Linked DNA regions of Homo sapiens: region 2 is reported to be linked to region 1. Evidence: microRNA targets listed by miRTarBase, many of them from high-throughput screens and not tested one by one. Region 1 holds a microRNA gene; the other region holds the end of a gene's coding sequence.

Evidence for each region. The annotated mature microRNA hsa-miR-422a reads ACUGGACUUAGGGUCAGAAGGC and lies in region 1 at 8,409-8,430, shown strand. An mRNA with a match to its seed (bases 2 to 7 or 8) in the 3' UTR can be bound and repressed. Matches are read on the target gene's strand: a 7mer-m8 pairs with bases 2 to 8, a 7mer-A1 pairs with bases 2 to 7 and ends in A, and an 8mer does both.
Region 2: the mRNA of CELF4 is a reported target of hsa-miR-422a. The part of its 3' UTR that is shown has no 7-base or 8-base seed match.

Annotation. Positions count from the first base shown.
Region 1 is chr15:63,863,769-63,879,418 of GRCh38, reverse strand. It overlaps MIR422A (microRNA 422a), which reads left to right and starts at 8,400; the gene lies at 8,400-8,489. RefSeq lists an enhancer at 1-525.
Region 2 is chr18:37,244,545-37,260,194 of GRCh38, reverse strand. CELF4 (CUGBP Elav-like family member 4) reads left to right here. Exons shown (of 13, transcript NM_020180.4): 11 at 931-1,014; 12 at 6,257-6,428; 13 at 14,998-15,650. The coding sequence ends at 6,384. Among named protein-coding and RNA genes, the nearest start is that of SNORA111, 210 kb to the left of the region's middle. RefSeq lists a silencer at 5,987-6,136 and enhancers at 9,657-10,157, 10,158-10,658.

The sequences.
Region 1 (15,650 bases):
CCTAGAGGCATACAATCATTGCCAGCTGAGCCACTGGGCCCAGGGTTTCCCCAGCCTTTATGGTTGGGTTTGCATTGAGGCTTCTGGTTCCTGGGGGAGTCTGGCTGCAGAGTGGCCCCATCGGATGCTCTCAGATGTCCCCTCCCACCCACCTGCAATGGCCCCAGTCCACACACTGTGGGATGTTTTTATTCTTTCCTGCTCTCCTCTTCTCCCCTCCCTTCCTCTCTCTTTTTTCCTGTCTTTCTCTCTCTTTCCCTTTCACAAGCTGGGGCTAGAACATCAACTTAAGGAGGAAAACACAAATAAAGGGCCTTCCTCAGGGAAAAACCTGATCAGAGGAGACTCTGTGCCTGGAGCCTGTTTTCTGCCAGCTGTCAGGGATTCTGTAGGATTGGCCTCTCCCAACCCGGAGCTCCCCAAAGCCAGGTTCCTTCTCCCTGCTGCTGTCCTTTGGCTTGGAGAGTGGGGACCTGCATGTCCTGCCTCCTCCGCTTGACCCAGGAGGACACGGCCTCTTGGGATTCTGAGGGTAAGTGCTCCCTGCAGTGCCATCGCTCTTTCCTGCTTATTACTTCACCATCCTCACAACAACCCTGTGTCGGAAGAGAGTGTTCAATGGGCACACAGTTCCATGACCATTTTACCGATGAGAAAACTGAGGCCACACAACTACTAAGACACAGGCCTTCCATCTCTGAGTCCTGCACTTTGCTTAGGTGAGTAACTTCAGCCATTGATCTGGTCATTCTGTGCCCCTCTCTCCAACCTCCCTGGGGTTCTCTTGCTGAAACTGTCTGAATTGGGAATGCAGCCTGGCTCCACGGGCTTCCCAGGTTCCTGCCAGAAGCACCCAGGCTAGCTTTACTGCAGGAATGGAAGCTACCCTCTGCTCCATTTCTGCTAAGAAGAATGCCTCAGATAGGCGGGCAAGGTGGCTCATGCCTGTAATCCCAGCACTTTGGGAGGCCGAGGAGGGCGGATCACTTGAGGTCAGGAGTTTGAGACCAGCCTGCCCAACATGGTGGAACCCGGTCTCTACTAAAAATACAAAAATTAGCCGGGCGTGGTGGCATGCACTTGTAATCTCAGCTACTCAGGAGGCTGAGGCAGGATAATCGCTTGAACCCAGGAGGTAGAGGTTGCAGTGAGCCGGGATCATGCCACTGCACTCCAGCCTGGGCAACAGAACAAGACTCCATCGCAAAAAAAAAAAAAAAAAAAAAAAAAAAAAAAAAGCCTCAGTTGAAACTAGAAACCTGTGGGCATCAGAAAATACTTACCAACCGCTTGCTCATGCCCCACTACACCCTAAGGCAGAAACAAGTGTTCCCCTGGATGCTTGTGGTGAGAGGTTGGCAGTAGGTCCCTGGAGCTGGGGCCTGTTGCAGCCCCTGGGATCAGGTGAATCAAGGGAATCAAACACTTCTGTTCCACTTCCAGATAAGATAAAGGTTTCACTTTCTTCTCCTTGGGGAAAGAGCTGACCTTGCCAGGTGACAAAAATGCTAATGAGGCCCCAAGAGAACCCCTGCCTGGTAGAAAGGGTACTGAGCTTGGAGTCACAATGTGCTCTGCTCATTTCTAGAGGAGTGAACTTGGGCAAACACGGTTGCCACTGCGCCTGTCTTGTAAGTTGCTGGGAGGGGTGATGAGAAAATGCTGCAATGCTTATGGCCTTAGAAAGATGCTCATGATATGTTGGTATGAAAAAGCAGATTACAAAAAAGGTATATATACTAGGCCCCCATTGCTGTGAAATATAGAAAAATAGCCAAGAGCCATATTCCACTATGCTAACAGTACTTATTCTGGGTGATAGGATCATGGGTGTATTATTTTTCCCTGTTTACTTATCTATATTTTTAATTTTTTCTACAGTAAATATATATTATATAATTATTAGCTATTGCCACAATAATACTGCATAACAGACCAGCCCCAAATCTCAGTAGATTACAACACAAGGATTTATTCTCAAGCTCACAGTTCTGCAGATCAACTGCAATTTGACTGACTTAGGTTGGGCATGGAAGGGCTGCTCTGTCTCAGCCCCGCCCTGCTAAATCAGTCAAATTGCAGTTGGACTAGGTCTGGCTCCTCACTGCAGGTCAGGCTGTATGCCCCACGTGCCTTCATTCTGGGGCTCTGGCTGAAGGGGCAACAGTTATAAAAGCTTGCTTCGCTTCACCTTCCAGCTTGTCAGAGCCCAAGAGACAAGCCAAAATGCACAAGCATGTATAAAGCCTCTGTTTACCTCATTTCCTAACATTTTATTGGCTAAAGCAAGTCCTATGGCCAAGCCCAACACCAATGGGGCAGGGAAGTATATGCCACCCACAGTGGGAGTGGGAGGGGAGTGGGTATATTCTGAGTACTAACCCAGTTTATTGCTTATTACTTGTATAATAAAGCAAACATAATGTGCTTTGTGAGATGTTTTGATGTTATCCACGAGAGAGTATCCTACGGGGCTCCCCAAGGTTAAGAAAGTGGAGCCATTGTAGAATTTTATAGTTAGAGGATAGAATTAATGTGTTTTCTTTGTTTGTTTGTTTGTTTGTTTGTTTGTTTGAAACAGGGTCTCACTCTGTCACCCAGGCTGGAGCGCAGTGGCACAATCCTGGCTCACCGCAACCTCCGCTTCCCAGGCTCAAATGATCCTCCCATCTCAGCCTCCCAAGTAGCTGGGACTACAGTGTGTGCCCGCACACCCGGCTAAGTTTTTGTGTTGTTGGTAGAGACTGGGTTTTGCCATGATGCCCAGGCTGGTCTTGAACTCCTGAGCTCAGAGCTCCACCCACCTTGGCCTCCCAAAGTGCTGGAATTATAGGCATGAGCCACCACGCCCGGCCCTGAGGATAGAAATAATGTGAAAGGGGTAGGCTGACCCTCTCTTCCTTCTCCTCCGTCCCTTTAAGATTACCAGACACGACCATTTATGGCACCTACAGGCTCATAAAGGAAGGCGGAAAACTCCCACACAGCCTCATGGGCCATTCTCGCCAGAGGCCCAGGACCTTGCTAGTTCCCATCCAGATCTGTCTGAATTCACTTCCTGCTGACTTCCTTTCTCTTGATTTCTCTCAGTTCATCCAGTCATTCATTCAAGTTCTATTTATTGAGCACCTACTATGTGCTGGCACTCTTCTAGCCGTGGGGTTATGTTGGTGAACAAGGCAAGTGTTGATAAACAAGGAAGTCTTTCCTCACAGGGATTACATTCTAGTGGGGAGTGGGGTGGGTGCCCGGTAGGGGAGAAATGCTAATATCAAGTAGTGTGAATGCTAAGAAGTAAGTAAGATGGGAGAGTGCAACAGAGAGTGACAGGGCGAGGGATGGCTACTTTGGATAGTGAGGTCAGGAAAGGCTTCACTGAAGAGGTGCTGTTAGAAGTTACTGGAAGATGCTTCTTAGGAACTGATATTTAGGTCTGGGCTCTCCAGACCTTGACTCTTAGTCCCTCTCAAGAATTTGGCTTGGGTTCTCCCTACTGTTCGCTCTCCACTTTGGCCTGCTGTGGGGAGCTCTCCTGTCCTAGCTATCTTCCAACCAGCTTCCCACTGGGTCTGGTGCCCAATCGGCTTAGCCAGTCCTCAACAAAGAGGAGACTCAAAAAAAACCCTAGTAGATCAAGCCAGTCACTTACCGAACTCCTATTGTATACCAAGCTAGTAGGCGTTTATTGAGCACTTTCTGTAAACCAAACCAATAGGCATTTATTGAGCATCTATTGGATGCCAGATCAACAGTCATTTATTGAGTGCTTACTGCATATCCAAACCAACAAGTGTTGATTTACTGTGTTCCTGGAACTGAGAAGAAAACAAAACTATTGCTCTCTAGAGACTTGCAATCAAGTTGTGAATGCAAATGTTACACAAATGCAGACCATTAGCTATAAAAGGCAGGACTTACAACTGTAAGTGCCATGTTGTACAGAACAGCGTCCCAGGAAGCTAGAGACAGCCTAGAGGTCATCATGCAATGGAGTAGCCACAGAAGGCTTCATGGAGGAGGTGAAAATTGAACTGGGCTTTAAGGACTGGATAGGATTTAGATAGAAAAGAAAAACAGGGGCGGACCACAGTGGCTCACTCCTGTAATCCCAGCGCTTTGGGAGGCTGAGGCGGGCAGATCGCTTGAGCCCAGGAGTTTGAGACCAGCCTGGGCAACACGGCGAGACCCCATTTCTACAAAAACTACACAAATTAGCTGGGTGTGGTGGTATGTGCCTATAATCCCAACTACTAGGAGGTTCAGCTGGGAGGATCACCTGAGCTCAGGAGGCTAAGGCTACAGTGAGCCATGTTTGCACCACTGCACTCCAGCCTGGACAACAGAGTAAGACACCGTCTCAAAAAAAAAAAAAAAGAAAAGAAAAATAGGGACTAGAGTAGCATGGCCCAGGCCTGGGGGCAGTTGTGTTTTGGAACCCTCGGATAGAATTCTGAGCATTCATCATTTGGGCCTGGTGTCTTCTCCTTTCTGGTTTGTCAGCATTCCTGTAACAGCCAGTCGCTATGACCCCTTTCTTCTAGGCCATGGCTAGATTCCTTGGCAGTCATAATTTGCCTGAGCAATCCAGGGCTGACATAATCTGGCTAATGTCAGAATGGGCCACCCTGCAGAAAGGTGTTTGTGATGCTCTAGGTGGATAAGAGCATAAAAACCATGAAGATTGGCCTCAGGATATGCAAGTGCAGTGCATTTTTAGTCCAGGTGTTCTCTCCTCTTCTCTCAGGAGTCCTTAAAAACACTCATGTTCGGCTGGGCGTGGTGACTCATGCCTGTAATCCCAGCACTTTGGGAGGCCAAGGCGGGCAGATCACCTGAGGTCAGGAGTTCGAGACCAGCCTGACTAACATGGAGAAACCCAATCTCTACTAAAAATATAAAAAATTAGCCAGGCATGGTGGCGCGCACCCGTAATCCCACCTGCTAGGGAGGCTGAGGCAGGAGAATCGCTTGAACCCAGGAGGCAGAGGTTGCAGTGAGCCGAAATTGCACCACTGCACTCCAGCCCGGGTGACAGAGTGAGCCTCCGACTCAAAACAAAACAAAACAAAACAAATTCATGTTCATTTCTTCAGCCTGGAGCCTTGAGACTGCAGCCAGGACTATTTAGAATTCATAGATTCGAGATATGGGCTCAGTGGCCTCTTTATATATTTCTGAAAGCAGGAAGAATTTTATATCATTATTTTATTACTTAGATGATTAATAATATTCATATTATTAACCGTGTTACAATTTCAGATTTTCTGCTTTCCAGAAAATGGTCATGAGAAAATCTGAACTTGTAAAATGACTCCATTAAAGATAATCATTTTTTCACATTATAAATATTTATCCAGTACCACTCTGTATAGTCTGGGTCTGGGGGAAAAAAGGGAATAAGCCATAGATTCAGGGTTCTTTGAGATAGGGAGCCCTCTACCCCTTAACTATAAAGCTTAATATAATTTGTGGAAAGAGCTCTTTATACAGCTTTTCAGGAAGCTTGCTCTTCCTCCTAGTTGGGGGTGTCTGTACCATCTGTAGGATTACTTTCTATTTCATTTATTTTCAGGTCACAAAGTCTGTGCAGCACTCAGGAAGCTTGGAACATTGTCATTGTGGAGGGAATTGTTCAGACCTGAGGCAAAATAAAAACCGAAACTGAAGGCCAGGTATGGTGGCTCACGCCTGTAATCCCAGCACTTTGGGAGGCCAAGGTGGGTGGATCACATGAGGTCAGTTCAAGACCAGCCTGGCCAACATGGTGAAACCCTGTCTCTACTAAAAATACAAAAATTAACCAGGTGTAGTGGTGTGTGCCTGTAATCCCAGCTACTCAGGAGGCTGAGGCAAGAGAATCGCTTGAACCCAGGAGGCGGAGGTTGCAGTGAGTGGAGATCGCGCCACTGCATTCCAGCCTGGGCAACAGAGTGAGACTCTGTCTAAACAAAACAAAACAAAAATAACCTGAAACTGAGAGGTAGGTGTAAAACAGGCTGGAAGATTCATTTCAAGATATAAATAAACCTACGTAGACTTTCTTCCCCACTTGAGTCCCAGGGAAAAGTGAGAAGCAGCCAGGCAGGCACAAAGAGATCCCTGAGATTCCAGAGGCAGCCAGTCACTCCATCTGGAAGGAAGCAAGGAAGCTGTGGGAGGGAGGAGGGCTAAGGAGTTCTGTCCTGTGCTGTTTAAAGAAAACCAGGCAGCAGCTCACATTAGTCCCCGACATTTCCATTTCATGGCAGGTGGCACATGGTGCAGAAGAAGGATTATATAGGTCAGTCTAAGCCCAGCCAGCTACCACTAGCTGTATGGCTGTGTTAGCCCAGGTCTTCCAAGTAGCAGACATCAAGACAGGGTTAGACTGCAGGAGATTATTCGGTAAGTGTGCAAAACTGGAGAGGGAGCTGGCAAGGCTGAGAGAGGCGTCAGACGTCAATGCAGGTCTGACCCATGTGATGGAGAGAGGGAAGGAAGGAAGGTTACATCAAAGTATCTTACACGGCAGTGCAGTTCTAAGAAAGGTCAACAAGGCCAGTGGATTAAGGGGGTCCTTGAGCTAAAGATTTCCTTCAGAGCAGTGCTGTCAATCTCAACTTCCAGGTCGGCCTTAGTATCCCCATAGGCGGATACTAGTGGGAAGTATGGCCTCAGGGGAAACACCTCAGGTGACTTATCTTACCTCTCTGAGTTTTGGTTTCCTCAATTATAAAGTGAAGGTTTTTGAGAGGATTAAATAAAATAGCATATTTAAATTAAAGTGTTTACAGCCAGGGTGTGGTGGCTCATGCCTGTAATCCCAGCACTTTGGGAGGCTGAGGTGGCTGGATCACAAGGTCAGGAGATTGAGACCATCCTGGCTAACACGGTGAAACTCTGTCTCTACTAAAAATACAAAAAAAAATAGCCGGGCGTGGTGGCGGGTGCCTGTAGTCCCAGCTACTCAGGAGGCTGAGGCAGGAGAATAGCATGAACCCTGGAGGTGGAGCTTACAGTGAGCCGAGATTGCGCCACTGCACTCCAGCCTGGGTGACAGAGACTCTGTCTCAAAAAAAAAAAAAAAAAAGTGTTTAGAATGGAATCAACTGCCTAATAAATGTTCAATGAACATAAATTCCCTTCCTTGTCTTCTTGTACCCCATCTTGAGGCAAGTTTGGCACAGCGATATGACTCCTCTCCCCAGCCTGTCCTTCAGTCATCCTTCTTCCCTCTCCCCAGCCAGACACATAGGAGGCAAGTAAGTGGCCCTAAAGGCCAGGGCCTGAGTGCTTGTGTTTTTGTGTTTTGGTAGCCAGGCCTTGAGCCTTTATCCTGATGACATGGGGCTTCAGCCCACAGCTAGGCTGGGATGGAGGAGGGAGACCCCAGAAGGAGAGATATCACTTTTTTTTTTTTTTTTTGAGAGATAGTCTCTTTCTGTCACCCATGCTGGAGTACAGTGGCGTGATATCAGCTCACTGCAACTTCCACCTCCTGGGTTCAAGCAATTCTCATGCCTCGGCCTCCCGAGTAGCTGGGCTTACAGAAGTGCACCACCACACCCAGCTAATTTTTGTATTTTTAGTAGAGAGGGGGTTTCGCCATGTTGGCCAGGCTGGTCTTGAACTCCTGGTCTCAAGTGATCTGCCTGCCTCAGCCTCCCAAAGTGCTGGGATTACAGACATGAGTCACTGCGTCTGGCCAGATACTATTCTTACTTAGGAGAGGTTACTGCGTAGTTGGAAGGTTAAGCCACACCCCTTGGGAACACCGTCAGGGAAAACACTTAGGGAAGCTCTGCTCCAAAATTTTTCAGGCTGGGGTCCAGAGGGTCTGCTGCCCCGGGACTAATGCACATGTTCCCTCAGAGAGAGCCTTTAGGGATGGCTGTGTAAGACAGTCCCCAGCCCCACCCTGCCCACTGTCTCCACCGTACCCTCTATCATCCTCTGCATGCCTCATGCTCCTGCAGTGCTCTTCTCTCTCTGCCTCTGTCTCTCTCTCCCCAACCTCATAAATCTAGGCTTTGTTCCTGCTGGTCCCTCTCCCTACAATGTCTTTCCCTTCCTTTACCCTCCTAGTGAACACCTGCTTCTCTATCCAGCTCAGATGTCCCCTCTTCTAGGCAACCTTCCCTGGCGCACTGCTCTCACAACTGACTCCAGTCCCCAGGTCTGGCACCCCACCTCTCTGTGCCTCAGTTTCTGTAGCTGGAAAATACGATGATGATGACGGTACTACCATAGCTAATCACAGGGTAGTGGTAAGAATTAAATGAGATGATAAAAGCACCTTGTGAGGGGGCTGTATCAGTGAGTGTCATGGTCAGTGGTAGGTATGTGTCAGCAGATGCATACCTCATTGGTGAGCATATAATACTGTATGTTGCTGGGGGAAGCCCACAATGTGAGGACACGAGAGAAGCACTGGACTTAGGGTCAGAAGGCCTGAGTCTCTCTGCTGCAGATGGGCTCTCTGTCCCTGAGCCAAGCTTTGTCCTCCCTGGGCCTCAGTTTCCTCCTTTGTTCATTTAGGCATGGCCTCCAGGGCCCCTCCTGGCTATCCTAGCTTGGCTCAGAAGCTCTGGGTCCTGGGCTCTGAGCTCCGAGGCCCTCCCTGCCCAGCTCCTGTTCTCAGTGCTGGCTCCCTAGGCTGGACAGCTCCCATGCTATTAATATTCCTGGAGACAGCAAAGTCTCCCAACTCTCAGCATCTGGACAGCACCTCAGGCCAGGAGCATGGAGGCCCAGGCACACATCAGACCCAGAGCTCCAGAGTAGGGCATGGGAGAGTGGGGAGCTCCTTCCTGGAAGAGGAGGTTGGCACCGGCAGCGAGGAGCTCCAGTGCTTCGGAGGGGGAGCAGGAGGGGGTTGGGCACACCCTTAGTGGAGGAGCTCAGAGACTGTGGCTTTTGGGTTTTGCCTGCAATCCTTAGGGCCAAGATCACCAAAATCATTTAGACCCTGACATCCTAATTGGTCCTAATCCACATATAGAATATAGGATTCTCACTTGATCCTATGGAAGAGAAAAATTTTCCACTGTGAATGTTCAGAATCTTCTTAGCAATCAAGGGCTCTATCCCACACATAGCAATTTTGTCACATCCTAGACTATGGGACTTTTTTTTTTTTTTAAGTGCTTCAGTGTGTCTTTGATGCTGGATTTGGTAATTGGTTCTTGGGTTTTAAAGACTTGGTATTTCCACGGTGAGTCATAATTGTTCGTTGACATACCTCATTGCCTAATGCCATTTATAGCCCCAAAAGATAACATACATCACATGAGGATTTTTTAAGCTCACTTCTTTAAACAGATTCTATATTGTACTGTTTGCTAGGTCATTCATCCATCCAGTATTCTCTCTGCTTCCTCATTTCTCCTGTGTGCTGGAGACTGTGCTCTCACCTTCACACCCCTCATTTTATTTAATCCTCACAACCATCTCAGCGAGGCAAGAATTATTATCCCCTTTTCAAAAATGAGAAAAATATGACTCAGAGAGGTTAAGTGATGTGCCCAGGGCCACACAGTAAGCGACTGGAATTAGGATTTCAACTTAGGGCACTGAACTTTTCATCATAGCAAATTGGCCTCCTCTCTCCTCCTAAGCTCCCCACTTCTCATAGCATTCAAGTCCTCCTCACTATTATGTGTGTTTGTGTGTGTGTGTGTGTGTGTGTTTTAGAGACAAGGTCTTGCTCTGTCATCCAGGCTGGAGTGCAGTGGTGAGATTATACCTCACTGCAGCCTCAAACTCCTGGGTTCAAATCACCCTCCCACACCAGCCTCTCAAGTAGCTGGGACTATAGGCACATACCACCACACCTGGATAATTAAAAAAAAATTTTTTAAAGATGGGGTCTTGCTGTGTTGCCCAGGCTGGTCTCAAACTCCTGGCCTGAGGGAATCCTCCCACCTCAGCCTCCTGAGTACCTCCACATTATTTTGAAGCAGAGAACACTGGGGATAATTATGAGTTTTTTGTTTGTTTGTTTGTTTTTGTTTGATGAGAAGAATATTGTCTAGGTTTATTTTATTTTTATTCTTGATGAGAAGAATATTGTCTAGGTTGATTTTGTATTATTATTCTTGATGAGAAGAATATCGTCTAGGTTGATTTTTTTTTCATGAGCTTATTTATTCATTCAATACATCTCAATGAGAACTGGCTAAACAGGGACACTTGGTGTTAGCCCAGAGACCTAGAGGTCATGGCCACTTATTACATGCCGGGACCCATGGTCATTCCATAACCACCCTGCTCCCACCCTGAAAAAGAGTCACAAACAATTAGGACCCAGACTGGTGGGTGGTCTTGTAGGAGAGGGTCTTGTAGGAGAGGGTCCAAAGAAGTGAGGACAAAACCCTACCAATTAGAAGTCAAGTCTGAACTCCAGACAGGAAAAAAGAAAAAAAACCCATCAACTCAAAAAACCCTCTGTTCCCGTTAAGAGCATAAGCTTTAGATTACAAAGTCTTACATAGTGGGAGATATCCTTGGGAAGGAGGTGTTGTGAGGTGGAGAAATAGAGGCACTGATGTTGGCACCCAGAAAATCTTGGGCCATCTCTCAGGCAAGTGGCTTGATCTCTCTGGCCTATGTTTCTTTATCTGCAAAACAGAAAGATGCTTTCTGTTTCTCAGGGTGAGGGGAGTAAATGAGCTAACATGTGCAAAGCCCTCCATTCCTGAAATGTGGCAGCTACTTTAAAATTGTTATTTCAATGCCATGAGTTATGTGTGGAGCAGTTGGTCCAGAATAGAGGGGGAACAAAATTTGGATCAAAGAACAGCCCCTGAGGGATTAAGCATTCATATAAGATAGACATGAATCATTGCAAAGGCACACCCTTTTTCCCAATGTGTCAATGAGACTTCTTCATCCAATGAGTTAGTCTAACCGGAGGTGAGGTGGGCTCTAATTCAAGACCTATAATAGACCAGGCATGTGCCATTGATAGATGCTAATGATGATTGCAAACAAAGGGGGGTGGCTGCATAAATGTAGCTTCCTCTACATGCTCTGGAGGAATGGGAACATCTATCTGAGACCTCTGGTTGGGGACTATAGGCTTAAGAAGGCCAATATAATAGGGAGGACAGCATGGTAGCGAGAAAGAAGGTGGACTTAAAGCCAGAAGAGCCAGGCTCAAGTCCCAGCTCTACTTTCCAACAAGCTTTGAGACCCTGGGCCAGCCACCAAGTGTCCTGTCTGGTTTATGAGAACAGTTGTCTTAGTATCTGCCTCACCTTGGTCATAAAACTGTTGTCAGAAAGACAAAGTAGGTCCCTCAAAAAATTAAACATAAAATTACTAGAAGATCCAGCAATTCCACTTCTAGGTATACAAAAAATTGAGGCTGGGCTCAGTGGCTCACACTTGCAATCCTAGAACTTTGGGAGGCTAAAGAGGGAGGACTGCTTGAGGCAGGAGTTCAAGACCAGCCTGGGCAACATAGTGAGACCCCCCCTTCTCTACAAAAAAAAAATTAAATTAGCTGGGCATGGTGGCATGCACCTGTGGTCCTGGCTACTAAGGGGGCTGACGTGGGAGGATGGCTTGAGCCTGGAAGGTTGAGGCTGCAGTGAGCTGTGATCACACCACGCACTCCAGCCTGACTGATAAAGTAAGATCCTGTCTCAATGAATGAATGAATGAATTGAAAGCAGGGACTTCAACAGATATTTTTACCCTCATGTTCATAGCAGCGTTATTCACAAGAGCCAAACAGTGGAAACAACCCAAGCATCCATTAATGGATGAATGGATAAGCAAAGTATGATACATACACAACGGAATACCATTTAGCCTGAAGAAGGAATGTAATTCTGATACATGCTTCAACATGATGATCCTTGAAAACACTATGTTAAGTGAAAGAAGCCAGACACAAAAGGAGGACAAATGTATGATTCCAGGTAGATGAGGTTCGTAGAGGAGTCAAACTCATAGAGAAAGAAAGTAGAGTAGTCATTATCAGGAGCTGGAGGAGGAAGCAATGGGGAGTTATTGTTTAATGGGTACAGAGTTTCAGTTTAAGGTGGTGAAAAAGTTTTAAGATGGATGGTGGTGATGCCTACACAACATGAATATACTTAATGCCAAAGAATTGTACAGTCAAAAATTGTTAAAATGCCCAACTACTCTGGAGGCTAAGGCAGGAAGACCGCTTGAATCCAGGAGTTCAAGGCTGAAGTGAGCTATGATTGTGCCACTGCACTCCAGCCTGGGTGACAGAGTGAGACCCTGTTTCAAAGAAAAAATAAAAAGTAAAAAAGATAAATTTTATATTATGTATATTTTAACACAATAAAAATTACCTTTTTTAAAAAAAGAAAGATATAGGCCAGGCGCGGTGGCTCACGCCTGTAATCCCAACACTGTGGGAAGCTGAGGCGGGCAGATCACGAGGTCAGGAGATTGAGACAATCCTGGCTAACACGGTGAAACCCCGTCTCTACTAAAAATACAAAAAAAAAAAAAAAGGAAAAAAAAATTAGCCCGGCATGGTGGCGGGTGCCTGTACTCAGGAGGCTGAGGCGGGAGAATGGCGTGAACCCGTGAGGCGGAGGTTGCAGTGAGCTGAGATCGCGCCACTGCATTCCAGCATGGGAGACAGAGCGAGACTCCATCTCAAACAAAAACAAAACCAAAAAAAAAAAAAAAAAAAAAAAAAGATATACTGTAGAGGAGAGTCATTTGCAATCTGTACAGCAACATGAAATAATTAGCTGTGGTAGAGGGGTTAGGATGCAATAGTTACATTATTATAACTACCCTCTACCACAGCTAATTACTATTGCTCTACAAGATTTCATATTGCTTTACAGGTTCTCTTAGAGCAATTGTCAAAATTGAGACCCTCATCCAGGACTTCTACAAACTGTTTTCCAATCTGAAAAATAGCAGGAAGGAGTAGATTTTTTTTTTTTTTAAGACACTGTAAGAGCTGAACGTGGTTTCCCTGGAAAGTGGGAAACGGGAGTGGTAGGGGCTGATGTTTTTCCTAACAGGTTTGTAGAACTGGAATCTTAAAAAAAAAAAAATGTTCCTGATTCATTATTTTCTAATGCTCTTTATTTATATCTGCTCTGATCATTGACTTCTATCCCACAATAAAGTTGAACCAGCCAGTGAAAACCATGGTTGTTATAGCTAGGAAGAGGGTGCTGAAGAACACTGAGCACCCTGTGTTCCTCCTTTCTGCTGGGCACGCAGTGATGGGGAGGGCCCTTACCCAGGACTGCTCAGTGTGTCCCCATCGGTAAAAGGAGCCATTGGCCTTCCTGTTTATCAGCCTCTCAAGCGTCTGCATCAGAGGCCTGGGTTCTCCAGAGCTTGGTTACCCCAGAGTGAGCTTTGCAGGTGGAGTTTGACAACTTCTGAGATGAAGATCAGACTCAGGGTCTAGGAGACATGGGCAAGGTTCTTAACCTGGAGCAGCCCAGAGGTCTGGGCCCCTTTAATGACTGTACACCACTTAGGGTGAAAATTAAATTGTAAACTGTGTGTATATGTGTTAATATATACCAACAAATAAAACTTAACTTGGGCAGTAAGTTGGCACGATTCCTATAAACAACACTTTATAGGAAATAATTAAATAAGCAAATTAATATGCCCATTCATGTTTTTTAACAGATTTACTGAGCTATAATTCACATACCATACAATATACCCATTTAAGGTGTACGATTCAGCCAGGCACAGTTGCTCATGCCTGTAATCCCAGCAAATTGGGAGGCCAAGGTGGGCGGATCATTTGAGGTCAGGAGTTTGAGACCAGCCTGTCTAACGTGGTGGAGCCCGTCTCTATTAAAAAATATATATACAAAAAAAAATAGCCAGGCATGATGGCGAGGGCCTGTAATCCCAGCTACCTTGGAGGCTGAGGCAGGAGAATCTGGGAGGTGGAGGAACCTGGGAGGTGGAGGCTGCAGTGAGCCGAGATCGCGCCACTACACTCCAGCCTGGGCTGGACTTTTGAGACTCCGTCTCAAAAAAAACAAAAAAGTGTACAATTCAATGGCTTTTGGCACATTAATTTATTAATCTTAACATTGTGAGAAAATATATATAACATAAAATTTGTCATTGTAACCTTTTTTTTTTTTTTTGAGATGGAGTCTCGCTCTGTCACCCAGGCTGGAGTGCAGTGGCGCGAACTCAGCTCACTGCAAGCTCCGCCTCCCGGGTTCACGCCATTCTCCTGCCTCAGCCTCCCAAGTAGCTGGGACTACAGGCGCCTACCATCACCCCCGGCTAATTTTTTTTGTATTTTTTAGTAGAGACGGGGTTTCACATGTTAGCCAGGATGGTCTCGATCTCCTGACCTCATGATCCACCCGCCTAGGCCTCCCAAAGTGCTGGGATTACAGGCGTGAGCCACTGTGCCCGGCCCATTGTAACCATTTTTAAGTCCATAGTTAAGTTGATTATATTCACAATGTTCTTTTATTTAATCCCTGTGAAGATGCCATTTTATAGATGAGAAAACGGAGGCTAAGTTAATGAATTTACCTATAGCTACTCAACGAGGAAGCAGCCAAGTAGAGTTGCAAACTCAAAGTCAAGCTGAAGGCTGGGTGCTTCCCAGCAGGCCAGGTTACCTTCTATGAGGTGGAGAGGCTCCTGGCAGATCAACCATCCAGAGTAGCTGGAAGGCGGGCTTGTTGTTGCCTAAAGGAGCCAGGGGAAACCGCACAGCATGCTTTGGCCCCTCATGGCTCCTCACTGACCCTCCTAAGTCGACTTTGAACCACAGTGACATGTACTCTCCTTTGTGCCCTGACACCTGTTCTCCCTAGAGGGCACAGATGGGCTACCTCCTCCTCCTCCTCCTGGCCAAACTTTTTGAAAGAAGGACCCACAACTCTCTCTGATTCCTCATTCCTTGTTATTCCTCAGTCCACTGAGATCCAATCCCATCATTCCTTTGATACTACCTGCCCCCATCGGCGTCACTGAGTGGCCTGGTGAGCAAATCTAATGGATCCCTCTCTCGGGGCTGTACTGGCTTTCCTAGTGGCTCAATGGCACCCCACTCTCCTGGTTCTCCCAATTCTCATCACCCCTCTGCTTCCCTCACTCCTCCCTTCCCTAAAGGGAGGGCATAGAAGGCCAAGGGAGCCCTAAGCTAGGCCACCATCTGTTTCCTCAGAGTCTGGTCTGTCTTTGGACTGCACTTGCTTGCCTGGTCAGTCTCCCATCTCCCTTAAATTCAGAACCATCCATGTGTGGCCACTACCAAATTTCTACCTCCTGCCAGGCCAGACCTCTCATCTGAGCTCCAGCCACAAGTCCTGCCTGGCCAGCCTCCCTGGTCATCCCACAGGCACCTCAAGCGAACCATGTCTAATGGACCTCAGCACCCCTCCCCTTCCAAACCAGCTTCTCTTTCCATGTCCCTATCTCAGTGACACACACCATCATCTACCCAGTCATAAGAAGCAGAAACCTGGGAGTCACTCTCTGGAATGTGAACTCACGGGGCAGGGATTTTTTTCTTACTTGTTTAAAGCCTATATTCCAAGCACGTGGAACTGGCTTAGGAGGTGCCTAATAAGTATTTGTTGAATGAAAATCTTTTTTTTTTTTTAAATAGAGATGGCGTCTCACTATGTTGCCCAGGCTGGTCTTGAACTCCCGGCCTCAACTGATCC
Region 2 (15,650 bases), not on the chromosome of region 1:
CTCTATGGAGACAGGCTAGGCTCATGTCCTGGCTCCAGGCCCCTCCCAGCTGTGCGTGTTTTGGCAGGTGACTTAACCTCTCTGGGCCTCACTTCCTCATCTGTGAAGTGGCAATGATGATAATAATGTCACAGGGTTGCTGTAAGGATTAAGTGAGTTAGAGACATGTAAAGTGCTCAGAACAGCCTGACACATAGTTTGTGCTGCTGAAGTCGCAGGGCTGTTACTGTGGTAACGAAATGAAGAACCTTCATGTCATGAGGCTGGAGGGTTCCCTGGCTAATCATAGAGCCTCAGTTGCAGCGCTTCCTACGCACCTACACAGGAGGAGGCAGGATAAATCTTGGTTTCCTGGGTGTGTGGAACTGGGCAGGACAGTTGGGCCATCAGGGGCAGATGAGAAAGAGAGGCTGCAGGCCAGGGGGAGGATGGGCACCCCAATCCCAGAGTCTGAGACTGGCCTGCGAGAAGGGAAAGTGGGGGGTCTCCCCAGCACAGGACTTGGCTGCCCCAGGGGATGCCCTGGTCCCCCCAGAGCAGGGGCAGGGCAGGAGGGAGGCCTCCCGGATCTCCTGGGCCTTCCCTATCTTCAGCACCTGGTTTCCAGAGACACAGCAGTAGGTCGACTCCGCCTCTGGAGCCCTAGGGTTTCTAAGCCTCTGCTACAGATCCATTTTATAGAAAAGGCAACTGAGGCACAGAGAGGTTCAGTGACTTGCCCAAGGGCAGAGCAGAGACCGGAGCTCAGACCCGGGGCTCAGCATCCCTGCCTCTTCTGGGGCGCCCTTGGATCTGGAATGAGACTCCCCCTCCTAACCTTGCCCCCACCCCTCCCTGCTGCGCTGCCTAACTCGCTCACCTCTCCTCTGTCTCTCTCTTCCCCCACCCTGCCATCCCTCCTCCCCCGCCCACCCCCTCCCCTCACCGCAGGGCCCGAGGGCTGTAACCTGTTCATCTACCATCTGCCCCAGGAGTTTGGGGACGCTGAGCTGATGCAGATGTTCCTCCCTTTCGGTAATGTCATCTCCTCGAAAGTGTTTGTGGATCGGGCGACTAACCAAAGTAAATGCTTTGGTGGGTAAAGATAACAAACCAATTAGCTTCACCTAGGACAGGGCGGTGCTCGCACCAACCTACCGGTGTCCGACTGCTTTTAACCTGCTCCTTCACATTGCCCCCGCCCCAGCTGCTCCATGGCCCTCACCAGCCTCATCTCACCCTTCTCTCTCCCACTACTCCTTTTGCTTCTTGGCTTTCCCTACCCACACAACCTGGCTCCCCATCTCCCACTCCCGGTCCAAGAAATGGGTTTCCTCTTCCAGACAAATTCCAACCTACTGAGAAGGGAAAGGGGCCACCTTGACAGGGGTAGGAGGGGCAGCAGGCAGAGCCCAGCCACACCCATTCCCCCAGTAGCCCCTCTCCTCTCATGGTGAGAGTGGCCTGGCCTGAGCCCGAGGCTAAATCAGAGCGTGACACCTGGGCAGGGCAGTCACCTAGCCAGGCCCCTCTCCTGCCCACCCCTTCGCCTCCTCTCTCCAGCTCTCTGTCCTGCCCCAACTCCTTCTCTGTCTACCCTGCTTTTTGCTCCCCTCCTGCCCTCCCCACTCACCTGCCTCAGGCCACCAGAGCTGGGCATTGTTGAGGAGTCAGGAAGAGGAGACTGGTCCCTGCCCTCAGGAAGCCTAAGCGCTGAGCTTAGATGAAAATTATGTTTATAGCAGTGAAATCTGCGAGGCACCTAATAATGAAACGACAAGGAAGGCAGATGGATATAAATACACAAAAAGGAAGGGAGGGAACTCCACGTGGGGAGAATTGGATGAGGAAGGCATGGGGCTGGGGTGAGACGAGCCAGAGGACAGTGAGAGGGAGACCAGGCGCGGGGGTGTGGTGTCTGTGCTGGGGGGTTTCCACTATGCAGAGGGGGGTGTTTCACGGGGTGTGGTAGGCAGTGGAAATGGTGGGAGGTCCTTGAGCTGAGAGTAATAAAAATACAGTTTGCAGGAAATGTGCTCAGGGCATGGTGTTAGATGGGAGAGGGAAAACTCGAAAGCATCCAGAAGTATGGCTGTCAGATAAAATATAGATGGCCAGTTAAATTTGAATTTCAGATAGACAAAGGATACATTTTTAGTATAAGTATGTACTTACAGTAAAAAGTATTTATTGTTGATGTGAAGCTTAAATGTAACTGGCATCCCGTGTTTTTATTTGCTAAGTCTGGCAACCCTATCCAGCAAGCGTCAGACCTCCTCCTGGAATTTCATATCACCCTTTCTCCTCCACTCCTCCTTGTTGCCCTCCGACCTCCTCATCCTTCTCCTTCATCCGTTCCTTCTGGGCCAGACCCTTTCGTAAGTCATGAGGACTGAAGAGTCCAGTCCCCAGAGAGCCACATATGGAACCAGAGCTGAGTCTGCCAGACACTCAGTATCTCCAGGCTGACCCCCAGATTCTGGGGCTGGGAGGAGAGAGTAGGAGGTTGAGTTGCAAGGAACCCAGGTCACAGCTTGGGGGTGGTGGAGGGGAGAGGAGACAGGAGTGCAGCATCAGGAAGCGCATGTTAAGGAGTTTCCAGTCTGGAGTCCAACCTTCTGGAATCATGAAGGGCTTGAGGATTCGGAGCATGTTCCCCAAAGTAGTCAAGATCTTTGCACCATTGTCCCTTCCCCTCTGGAGCTGCCACAGGAAACTTGTGGTCTTTCAATGGCATGGAGTTGCCCCAGCAGCTCATTTCTCTCTGGGTGTGGAAAAACAAAGCAGAAGCAAAAGACAGGGTTGCAGTCCTCCACTCTTTGGTATTTCTCCTTATGAATTACAGTTATGTATGTAAAAACAACAAGCTGGAAATCAGTTGCATCTGCTCTTTAAGGAAGTCCCAAATGTTACATAAATGAGAAGAGCGCTGCTGAGAGCCCAGGAAGCTCTGGGCGCCTCTGCTGGAACAGGTTTAGTCTCCAGCCATAGCTGGGCTTGGCATATTTGCACCATCCCGGGTGTGGGTGCAGTCCGGCTTTCCAAAGGCATTTCCTTGCAGTCTGCTCTAAGCACTACCCTCTTTAAGCTGTTAGCCCACTTAAATTAGCCAGGACTACAGTTTTTTTTTCTCTCTAATTAGTATACCTCTAATCTAGCTCTCCTCTCTTGAACAAATTTCTGATGTCGAGCATACCAGCCCTGAAAAAAGGACAGACTCCTGAGATGCTGGTCCAGCCCAGCTGTTCCTGGTTAAGCCACTTGGGTTCTCTCTCTCACCAGGCAGCTGAGCTTTCTGCCAATATCCCAGAGGCCTTTAAAGTGAAACCTAGGCTGGGTGCAGTGGCTCATGCCTATAATCCCAGCACTTTGGGAGGCTGAGGCGGGCAGATCACTTGAGGTCAGGAGTTCGAGACCAGCCTGGCCAACATGGTGAACCTCCATCTCTACTAAAAATACAAAAATTAGCTGGATGTGGTGGTGTGCGCCTGTAATCCCACCTACTCAGGAGGTAGAGGCAGGAGAACTGCTTGAACCCAGGAAGGGAGGTTGCTGTTAGCCGAGATCACACCACTGCACTCTAGCCTGGTGACATAGCAATACTCCGTCTCAAAAATAAATAACAAAATAAATAAATAAAAATAAAATAAAGTGATACCTAACTTCAGCATTCCCTCATGGACAAGTCATTTAACCCTGTGAGCCTCAATCTCTTCCTTTGTGAAAAGGGGATTTTAATCATCGCCCCAGGGATGCTGTGAGGGAGCTTACCCAGGGCAGACCCTCAGGAAGTGCTAGGTCCCCTTTGTTCTTAAAGTGCTATTTTTGCTATAAAAGTGGCCCTATGTTAAAGTGAACTCCTCAAAGGCCACATTCACTCTTTATAAGCACATGTGTAAATTTATGAGCAGAATCTTCCAGATACCTTCATGAGGGCATGTCTAGCACAAATGTTCCTATGTTGGAAGGAGGGCTGGGGGAATACCATAGGGGGATTCTATCTGCGGGCCTTCCCACAGGGCCTGGGAGCAGAAACCTTCTGAGGATAGGAGGAGGGAAGGAGAGGTAGCTCTGGAAGAAGGAAGACGGTCCTGGAACCATGAACTTGGGAGACAGTGCCCAGAGCCCTGCCACAGGGGCCTCCAGTCTGCAGGGGAGGGACCCTGCTCAGACTGCTAGCCAGTTACTAACAGTTCAAGGGAAGAAAAATTCCCTTGACCCTGGACTGCTTCTCAACTCTCGGGCTTCCGAGGACCTCTAAACTCTTCCAGGAAGGCTGGGCTTCTGCCCTCCTCCAGAACTTCCTCTCTGCCCTCCCCACACAGTGGTTCTGCCTGCCGCTACGCCTGTGCCCTAGACAGCTCCTCCAGCCCTTTTTATCTTCTTTCCCCTCCCTTCTTTGAGCTCAGGTGGATGATGAGAAGAATGAGGGGCAGCATGTCCCCCATAGTCAGGCTACCTTGTCCTGGCAGGGACAGGCTTTTGTCCAGCCACCTTCCTTATTCTGGGGAAAGCAGTATCAACACACAATTCACATATTTGAAAACTGCTCTGGTTTACTAAGTACTTGACTTTTACTTGACGTAACTTGACTTTAGTGATTAGACATACAGGTCAGCGGAGGTGGGGACGGGCCAGGAGGGGCTGAGGGGAGCTGGTGGAAATATGGCTGGAGGCGAATCTCGTATGGATCAGCTGAAATTCTCCCTATTTATTCTGGTATCTATATTTATACAGAGGTTAGTTTTGTTGCTCTGGGCCCAGCTCTGACCAATTGTTGCGCTTGTTCGGCTGTAGGAGCAAACTTGAGCAAGGCAGGAAGGAGAGGAGAGAAAGAAAGAGACGATGGAGGCAGCATCTGGGGCAGAGGGAAAGAGGGAAAAAGAACCAGCAGGTAGGGAAAGTGAGGAAGGGCTCTCTTTCTTGGAGAGAAGTCCCAAGGCAGGCCCGAGGTACCACAGACAATAAACTGAGAAGACGGCTTCTACTTCACTCCCGGGTGGCTGTGCATCTCTGTCTTATACCTAATGGCCATTTGGGGACCATTACGCAACGGGCACGTTCATGGGAACGCCTCAGTATCTCGCCAAGCTTTCATATATTTTGCAGGATCTAAGTCCTTTTTACAGGAGAAAAGGCCTCTAAAGTCGAATGAATTCAAGGAAATACTAGATTAAACAAAGCTATAAAGGTTCATTTACTACAACTCGGTGAGGGAGGGGACGTTATTTGTTGATATGCTGCACTGGCCCAGTGGGCCTGGCTCTAAACCTCCTGACCACACAAGCCCTTTCTCGAGGAGCACCTATTAGGGCCAGTTTGGGAAATGCTGATGTAAAATGTTGTCTGTATGAAGAGATGCATTCAGAGTTCCCCAAAGGTGACTTCTGACCTCATTTTGGGAACATGACCTGTGCCCATCTGGGACCTGCGCGGTTGGGCCTGGGAGCCGCAAGGTTCTGCATGCCATCTGGGCACAGGAGTGAACGCGTGGGAAGCGCTTCTGCACGGAGGGCTGTGGCCTGATTTGCACTGATGGTCTTGTGACTTGTTATGGACATATCAGCTGGTGCGTGCTTAGTCCACGGCGCAGGGCGTGGAGAAGAGAGGTGCCGACGGCGCCCGGGGCGAGGTGACGCCCAGGGCCCACCCGGAGCCTGGCGGGGCGGGCAGAGGCCGGGAGTGGGGGCGGAGGGCCCGCGAGGGCTCAGCCTCTGGGCCTCCTCCGACAGCCGGGCACCTGCGGTGGCGAGGGGGGCGGCCGGGCCGGCGGTGGAGAAGTTTCTCGGCGGCGCCTCCCTCCCGGCCCCTCGCACTCGTCTCTCTCCCCAGGCCGGCACCCTGTGCCCGCGCGCTGCCAGGCCCCCTCCTGTCAGGGAGGACAGTGTCCAATAAACTCCTCCACCCGCAGGTGTGTCCGCCCTCTCCCGCCGAGGCGAGGGCTGAGGTGCCGGGGCCGGCGGGGGTGGGGGGCGGGCGCCTCTCCCAGCGCCGCCCGGCCGCGGGCCCCACTTGGGGAGCGGGCGCCGGGCGAGTGACGCGGCCAGAGACTAGGCGCAGGTCAGCGAGCCGGGTCCCCGCCAGCGCCTGCCCCCGGAGGGGCCTAGCACGCGCGCGCGGGCTGGAGAGGGGCGGGCACCGGGGCGGGGCCGGGGGCGGGGCCCGAGGGGGAGAGCCTCAGGCCCGCCCCGCCCCCCTGTCCCCCGACCCCTCCCCGCCGGCAGCGCCCCGGGCGGCCCCGTGGAAACCCAGGCCCTCGTCCCTCGTGTCTCGCCAGGCTTCGTGAGCTTCGACAACCCGGCCAGCGCGCAGACCGCCATCCAGGCCATGAACGGCTTCCAGATCGGCATGAAGAGGCTCAAGGTGCAGCTGAAGCGGCCCAAAGACGCCAATCGCCCGTACTGAGCGCCGGCGGGAGCGTCCCCCGGGGGAGACCAGGACTCGCACAGGTAACCGGGGGCGGCCGGGGCGCGGGGACGGGGGTTGGGAGGGAACCAGACGGACCCGCCGCCTCCTCCGGCCTCCGTGGGCCGGACCCTCACTGGTGCCTTGGACCCGCTGCGCCCGGCTCAACCTGCTCCTCGCCCTGCTCCTCGGGCCAGGCGCAGAGCTGCCGTCACCCCGGCAGAAATGGGCCTGGCCATTTCCCTGTGGCAGGGCCACCAGGGGCAGGAGTGAGGGAGCCACTCCGGGCGGGTGAGGCGAGCCCTGGGCCTGCGCCTCCGGGTCTACATTGGCAGTCCTGTTGGCCAGAGAACCCTGGGGTGAACAGGTGGCAAGCTCAGGCTGAGGGAGGTTGGGGGCAGAACAGGCTCTACCCAGAAGAGCTGCAGCCGCCCGCGGGGCCTGCTCCCAGACCCCCGGCTCTCTCCTCCCCAGTTCTTCCAGGAGGGCTGGTAGCCTTTAGACACTTGACCCCTGCACCCCTGTCTTTCCCCATAGCTCAGTGAAGAGAGGAAGGACAGGATCTTTCAAAGGGAACTTTACTAAGAAACAAAGCAGGATGGGATGAAAGCTGAGGAGGGTGATGGTACAGCACTGAGATCCCGGGCCCTGCCTGCCCCACACGGGTCATGATGAGTGGTCGTTGTTACCTTTTCTGCTGGGCTGGGTCCTGCCTAGGAGCTGAAGACACAGTCAGCCACGCCTCTTCCAGCCCACGTGTTCCCCTGAGCAAAGTTCTTCCTGCAGAAAGAATGGGGGGAGATTCCCCAGGACATCAAAAGTCAACCTTCAGAATGGTTTCCCCCAGTGCTGTGGCTCTTGCAGCCTCGGCTTCTTCACAGAGCAGAGGTGAAGGCTCCTTTCGGGCCTTTCCAGCTCAGCACCCTGCTGCCCTCTGACCGCCCCTCCCTGCCCATGTTCCTCCATTTATTCAGCAGTATTGTGTGCCAGCTACTGTGTTAGGTACTTGGGGTTCAGCAGTGAGCAAGATTGAGAAGGTGGAGACAGACAATAAACAATGACGTGTGATCAAAGAATATGATCTAGTATGTCGAGATTGTTGGCTACAGTTAAACCACATGGTCAGTGTAGATCTCACTGAGGAAGTGAATTGGAGCATAGAAGGTGAGGGAAGCAGCCATGCCCCCGCCTCTGAGGGAACAGTCAGTATGGAGGCTGCAAGGTGGGGCTGCAGAGTGGAGTAGGAACAGCAAGAGACTGGGTTGCTGGGAGAGTGAGGAGGGCCACCTGGTGTGGGGCCTTGAAGGCCACTGCGTGGACTTTGGTCTCTTCTCTGAAATGGGAGATGGAGAGAGCATTGGAGAGTTCTGAATAGGAGAGTGATGGGTAACTTGCATTTCAGTGGGGTCACCCTGGCTTCTGTGTTGACAATAGCTTGTAGGGGGCCAAAGCATAGGTCTACTGCACTGACCACTCAGTCCAGTGTCACAGCAGTTGATGAGATGTGAAGGAATTAATTTCTAGGTGTATTTTGAAAGAGGAGCCAAGGATGAGTCCCAGGCTTTTGGCCCAAGTCACTGGAAGAACAGAGGGATTGGGAGAAAGATCAGGCATGTGAAAAATACACATTTGAGTTTCACAGTCCAGAGTTTGGGAGGGAGGTCTCCAGCTTCCCAGTCTCCCCTCAAATCTTCCACCCAGTGCTGGGGTACAGATACCAGCAGAACACCCTTCCTCCACCCAGAAGTAGCAACTCTCACCCTCAGAGAGCAGGGGCCTTCTCTCTGGGGGAGTGCTTGTGCCTCCACTCTCTGCAATCCTGGAAAAGCAAAACCAGTCTTTCCTGCCTCCTGGTTTCCCATCCTTGCCCATTTCTGGCTTGTTTCCCATCCTTGCCCATTTCTGGCTTGTGTCCAGATGCAAACACACATGTTATTCAGAGTTTGGGCACCTTCTTGTGCCAGGCACTGGGCCCAGTGTGGGGGATGCAAGGATGAATGAGTCACCATCCCTGCCCTCGAGGAGCTTCTGGCTCTGTGCACACACAGACACCAGGAGGCAGCTTGCAGATGGGGGCATTTCCATAGGAATGGAGGGACGGTTTCGTGAAAGCAGCTTTTTCTGTATATAGGACACTTTTTCTTAAATCAGCATAGCTCTGCCATTAAGGTGTGACCTGGGTTAGGGTGCTTGTCCTCTTTGGGCTTCTTTTTTCTCATTAATGAGACTAAGGTGTTAGAGTCAACTAGAGGATTTGGGGGTTAGGGGGATATGAATCAGGCAGGGTCATGTCCCGAGATTCCAAGGGGCACCCCTGAAAGTAGCTTGTCTTAGCCTCCTTGGCTCAAGCCAGGATAAAACCTCTAGGTTAGAAGAATTCCCAGATGAAGGAGTGAGAAGGCAGGTTTATTGTTTGGGATATAAGGTCAGAAGTGCCCACAGGGTTGAACCAGCTGGCATTCAGAGTTGGGGTGGGGGCTTGGGAGGAGTGGTTTAAAACACAGAGTCGGTTCTTCCACCAGGGCATGCAAAGGGCAGAAAGATTAGAACCCTAGACCTTCACACAGTGCTTACCATGCACCAGGCACTGCTCCGAGAAGTAACAACTAGGAGATGTTAACTACATAGCTACAACTACCTATAAGGTAGGTAGTGTTAGTATTTCCATTTCACAGATGGGGCACAGAGAGATTAAGTAGCTTGCCCATCAGCTAGTGAGTCACAGAGCCAAGCTTTGAAGCCAGGGAGCCTTCTCCCCTTCAAGTGAGGAGAATGAGAAGCCCCACCCTACCCTCACCCCAACCTATTACCCCAGAGTACCCTGAATGTCCTGAGGGAGTACATATGACACCTCACTTTTCTGGGGTCAGCCATCTAACCACCTCCTTTCTACTAAGCAGTCCTTTAAAAAACTACTATGTCACATAACTCCTACAGTAAGGTTGACATTTAATTTTCATTTAGACAGTATTTTAACGAATGGTGCTGTCAGGCTTCCCAGCCCAAGACTGTTGGAAGCTCTAATAGAAGGCGGTTGCTAAGAAGAGATAGAGAGCTTCTCAAGGCAGCCTTGGGGACTGCCTTGAGGCAGTGGCTCAATGAGAAGTGGCTGCCCTCGGACTGCCAGCGAGGGAGGAAAAGGCACAAAAAATCAGCTAAAATACTGCCTGGTATCACAGGCCAGTAAAGGGTATTCATTTGTGCTGAGGCCTGAGCTGCAGCCCCAGGTGCTCAGAAGGGCAGGAAGCCTGAGCAGGGGCCGAGGGACCAGCCATAGCTGGGAGCAAAGTGGGAGGTGGAAGGGGGACCTCAGGGCTAGGGCAGCTGCCCCATGGTGGTGCAGGCTTTCTAAGGCCAAGTCAGAAGGGAGTGGGGACAGACCTAGGGGAGGGAGAAGGGCCTAGGCAGGGCAGCTGTGGGGAGTACAGTTGGGCTTTGGTTCCATGAAGCAAGGTCCTGAGTGGGGTGGGATTAGGGTTGGAGTCAGTGACTCTCCTTCCTGGCGGGTTTTCTGCTTCCCCACTGCCCTACCCCTCTGGTGGCTTGGGTTTGTTGTCTTGTGCTAAGACTGGAGTTTCTCTAAGCAATCTTTGCCAGGAAATAAATAAGGAAGGAAGCAAAGGCAGGAAGAGTAGGCAAAAACATGCATGTGGCCAGGTCCATAGCCAGCGGGCAGAACACACCCAGCCTGGCCCCGCCCAGCTCAGAGATTGGCCTCTGAGCCCCTTGTTCCGCCACTGCTTACCAGACACACTGGGCCCCAGCAGCAGGCCAGGTTCTCAGACTTCTAGCACTCCAGTTCTATGGCTGGAGAGTGCACCAAGCATCTTGTCCTGACCCCAGTGAGTCCTGTGACTCTGGCTCTGAGTATGCTTTTGGAGAGTGTCGGGTCCAGGCTTTGCAGGCACAGGTGCTTTGGGTCTGACCTATACAGGGCCAGGCTGTAGCTTTCGGCCTGGCCCTCCTTTGCTTGAGACCAGCTGATTTTAGGACCTGAGATCTGAATTGGTTCAGCTTGGCCATAATTTCCTCACCCAGCTCGGTGAGTTGGACTTCACCATGCCGGTCAGTGATCCCACTGCCACACCTAGGGCTGTGCTCTGTGAGCCTCCACCCCGAGAGTGGTCGGGAAGGGGTCACCCTGCAGGCAGAAGAGGAGCTGCTGCCTAATGAAGACAGTAGCCAGCTGAGCCCGTGGAGTCTTGGGGGCTCCTCAGGGACTGAGTGTGAGGGTGTGTTATGTGTCTAGGGCCACACATGTGTGAGAGATGAGGGTATGTGTGAGGAAGTTCCCTAGATTGAGCTTTAGGGACAGGGGCTGTGTGCTATTCAGGTTTGTGCTGCAGTACACAGGACAGTGCCTGGCCCTGACAAGCGGTTGCACTCTAAAGCTGGGAGAGGAGCAGGCAGAGTGGGAAGGAGTAAACGCCCATGAAGGGCTCAGGGCTGGAATGGAGGGAGAAAGAGGAGAGTCCCAGGGAGTCCCTGAGTTGCAGTTGCCACAGCCCCCATCTGATGGCAATACCCTCCTTAGTTCCTTAGGCCTCTTCTCCCGTGCCAACGGGAGCTGCCCGTTGGCCATCCTGGGTGGGTCTAAGGGCTTCTGGGAGGAGTTGGAAGTGGCATTTCAGGACTTGGTGGGCATGGGACGGTCCCTGATCTGGGGGAAGGAGATCCAGTGTTGGAAGAGCAAAGAACCCAGCCCTGGTGGGCAGGCAGGCTGGGGTCTGCAGAGGAGGAGTCTAGGGTGCTTCTGTGAAGGTTGAGCTGGAGGCCGGGCTTGGGCTCAGCTTCTTTGCCCCTCATCCACAGTGATATTTTAAGATCCCAGGCCTCCCTTCCTCCCTCCCTCCCTCCCTGCAGGAAAGCATAAAGCTGAGAGTGAAAGTCTGCTGTATGTAGAAGCCTGTGGACTGGAAAGCCTGCAGATCAACCTGGCACACAGGCCTTGGCCCAGGCCTGAGTGCCACAGGGGAGCAGGGAATCCAGTGCAAGCTCAAGATAACTATGGGGAGGGGTGGAGCTAAGGACCCCAAAGGGGCCCAGGTGCAGCAGAGGACTATGAAGTGGTGAGGGGTGGAGAAGTCAGCCGAAAGTTGAATCACCTGATGATTCCTGATAGCGAAGAGAACTCATTCTCAACTACTTAGGGCTCCACCAGGAAAGAAAGCTGAAGGTTGGGGCCTTGCGGTGGGCCAGGCTGGAAAGCTGTTCCTGGAGGGGTATGGGGTGAGAGGGTGGGAAAAGAGGATGGGGTAGGGAGGAGGGGAAGTCAGCAGAGCAAGAGTGGGAGCAGCAAAGGCTGGAGGCGCTCGCCTCTGTGCCCCCTGCAGGGGACCCTCCAGCCTTGCACATGGCCCCCTGCAGGGCACCCTCCAGCCTTCCATGTGGCGCTTTTATGGGTCAGGGCTGCAGAACCTTCGAAGGGCTTCATGTGCCTAGATGCAGCCTCAGTTTGGTTACACAGGCCACTTGGGAGCAAGGCAAAGAGTGTGAGCAAAGAAAGAGGGTAAGGCAAATGCAAGATGAACTCAGTAGTGCCAAGGCATGTTTCTAGAATTCCAAGAACATTGATGAATTTTACCCTAAATCTCAAAATGAACCCTGCTCAGGTTCTGAGGAAAGTAATTTGAGGTGGAGCAGAAACGGGGGAGGGCCATAACCTCCACAGTGGGTGCCCTTGCAGCCTTCTCTAGGATGGTGGCCAGGGTGGGTCCACAGGGTGGGAGGGCCGAGCTGCTGCCAGCCTGGGTGGTACTATGGCAGCAAAGCATTTTGTAGATGGACCCCGTGGACACAGCAGTTACCATAGCAAGCCTCTGACCTACCCAGCTGACCAGGGCCACCTTGACAGACATCCCCTGCTGGCCCACAGGCTGTAGTCACAGAAAGCTGAGGAGGGAGGGAGCGCCACCCCTGGGGGAGAGAAAGAATCAAGGGTGATGAAAAGCAGAGCGCCTGCTCCCTGAGATTGCTTGCTGGCCAAGGTGGTTTGAGGGGCTGTTTTATTTTTTTTCTGGCCCCCTTGCCAAACCGCCCATGCCCCCCTCCCCAACGCATGATGGATGCCCTTAGTGGCCCTGTGTGAGGTTCTGCTTCTGTTCACAGTGTATCATGTGTCTGCATAAACAACCGTGTGTGTGTATGTGTGTATGTGTGTGCGTGCGTGTGTGTGTGCGTGTGTGTGTGTTGATGTGCCCATGTTTGTCTGCTGGCTTCCTCCATCCTTTGAGTTCTTTTCAGTTCTCTTATGATTTGACTGCTGTTCTCTCATCAGAGCTTCTAGATTGATGCTGTGGTCTGGTGCTGTATAAATATATTTTCTTTTTAATTTTGTTTTAACTTCTTCCTTGCCCTCCTTCACCCAAATCCCAGCCCTCCCTGCCCTCCCACACTCCCCAACCCCACCTGCCCTGCCCCACCTCTTCCTTCCCCCACCCACACTCTCTTGTCCTCTCTCTCTCTCTCTCTACATATATAAATATATATATAAATCTTTTCTTCTTTTGTCATTCAATCAAATTCCAACAACCCAACCAGGGCCAGTCAAATCCACCACAGTCTCGCGCTGAGCTAGGAATAAAGTTCACGTAATCACATGAGAGTGGAGAAAAGTCCCCCATCCGTAAGTTCAAATCAACTCAAAGTTCACAGTGTGACATGATGGCGTCATGTAACAAGGCTAAGAATCGGTTGCATGACAATTGCCGTCAAGTTTCGTGGAGGTGCTGTGATTGGAGCGTTTTTCTTGGATGTTGTATCAGTTGATGATTGGCCAGTCATGATCACACGTGCATTTTCTTGACTTTTGTGCTGCCACAATCTTTTTTGCTGTGCTCATTTTCGTTTCGTTCTTGGTGCTTGCAGTGGTTTTACTTTCTGTTGTTTGGTTTTTCTTGTTCAGCGTTTTTTTATGCTTCTCTAGATGTCACATAGAGAAAAAAACAAAACAAAAGAACAAAAAATAGTCAAAATAAAGATGAATTCCTGAATTATCAAACATGGGATCATTTACCTGTGCAAACCATTATTTTTTTCTTAAAAATAAGGAAAACATCTTAAAAATATCTATGCGTGGTTGATTTACTTGCACTTGAAAATATTGTGATTTTATTTTTTTCTAGAAATTTGGGGGCCTTTTTCAATTGACACTTTCCTAGGTCTGGTCTTTTTCCAGTTAGGCTATTTTCAATCTCACTTCAAAGGGAAAAAAAACAAAAACAAAAAAACAAAAACAAAATATCTACAGTAACAGAATGATAAAAAAATTCTAAACCAAAAAACTAGAGTACAAAGCCAGAGGCCTCTGCAAGAGAGCCCGGTAACAATTGTAAGGTTTGTATTGTAACCACTTCTGCTAAATTAAATGTGGGGAGGGGAGGCTGGGGACTGGGGGCTCGGGAGGGTTTTTTTTGGTTGGTTTGGAAGAAACAGTACTAACAAAAGCAAAATGCACCTTTTTGTTTACAACTGAAAAAGGGTCCTTGACAAGTGTTTTTTAATTTTATTATTATTTTATTTGGTGTTGTAATTGTTTAGACTGCTGTGTACGGTTTGCTGTTTGTTGAATCAACAGTGTGAAAAACCTGCCAGCATGGATTGATATACGCATGACGTTGTCCCCTCAAGTGGGGGCTTTGCAGTTCTAACTTTCTTGATGTAACCAGTCACCCCCATGTATAAGTGGAAGCTGCTTGCTAGAATGGAGATGAGTCTCATTTGTTAATTCACAATGATTAAGCATTCGCCTTCTGATTCTAGTCAGATCATGATTTTTTTAAAGCAAAACAAAACACCAAAAAGCCACCATTCAAAACAAAATCAAGCACTGTCTGAGTTAATTTATTTAAGTTTGATAATTAAATCTCTTCTGACCTTTTTTAGGTTTTCCCATCCACTCCCTTGAAGTTCTGAATTCCTCTAAATTCCCTGGCATGTATGAGAAAAGTATTATGTGTGTGTATGTGTGTATATATGCATATACATACACACATATCCATGTATATCCACATATGTGCAGGTGAATATATTCTACACATATATCCAGATATACATATATATACACAGCCTCGCAAATAGTTACTGACCCCGGGAAAGAAGTGGTTGGCTGGAAGCTGGGCAAGGATTCTACAAAATTTGAGTCACGGATGTGTCTTCCTTCTTTCCCTTGAGCTGGGAGGAGTGGGCTGGGCTGCTAGATTTTTCCTATCTTGTTTGCTAGGCTTCTGTATACATATTGTATCTGGGCTAGATCCCTCAGAGACAAGTTTAATTATGAATTCATATCCCGCAGTCCCAAATTCTCCCCTTAGATGTAGCTACCCCCAATCCAGAATGCTAAAGTAACCCAAATCAAGAACCTTCTCCCAACAACGAAACCTCAGCTACAACCATCACCACTAGACCTCCCAGTGGTTTCTACTCTGAATAGAAGAGTATATTTCTTTTTAATGTATCATGATCATGACTAATTCTCATACTGGTCTCTCTTCCTTCCCTCCCACCATCCCCTAGAGCTCCCATCCTAGCCCCTGAGGCAGGTTCCTATTGGTGTTTGGATGCTGTTTGTGTTTTCCCTCTTGGCTTAATCAGCCCTGATTTTCTTCATTTTAGGGCAGGATGCTGAACGGGCTACATTAAAAAACAAACCTCTCTCTATATATATTTATAAATGAGAACTGTTGGATGACACCTTTGACATATCAGCCAATATCAATCAAGCTGAAGACTCCAGACACTGTCTGTGTGACTGTAACATTTCTTCAAGGAAAGTATAGCGTCTATGGAGTTCAGAGGGCACGTGTTTGGGGGAAAATATATATGACATGAAGAAGAAGATGAAGAAAAATGAGAAAAAAACACACAAAAGGCAACTTTAAAACAAAATATCACGAGCAGACGGGGAGGCTGAAGGGCTGGGAGCTGGGAGGAGACGCTGCTTACCGATCCCGGGGCTTTTCCAGCCCACGGGCGCCTGACGCAGGCTGGGGCAAGTGGTGCGTGGGGCCTGGTCCCCAAGGGGCGGCTGAGAGGCCGCCACTGAGCATCTCTATCTGTCATTCCTTTAGCTATTTAGGGACCAAAGGACCAAACTTTTTATTGCAGATGTGTAGCTCTATGTCAAATAGAGGGGGAATGGAGGACCCCCTCCTTCCTGCCTCATGGCTGTTCTTGAAACAGCTTAGAGCGATTCTATGAAAAAATGTAATAAAAAATTAAAAAAAAAACAAAAAACAAAAAAAACAACAAAAAAAGGAAAAATAACG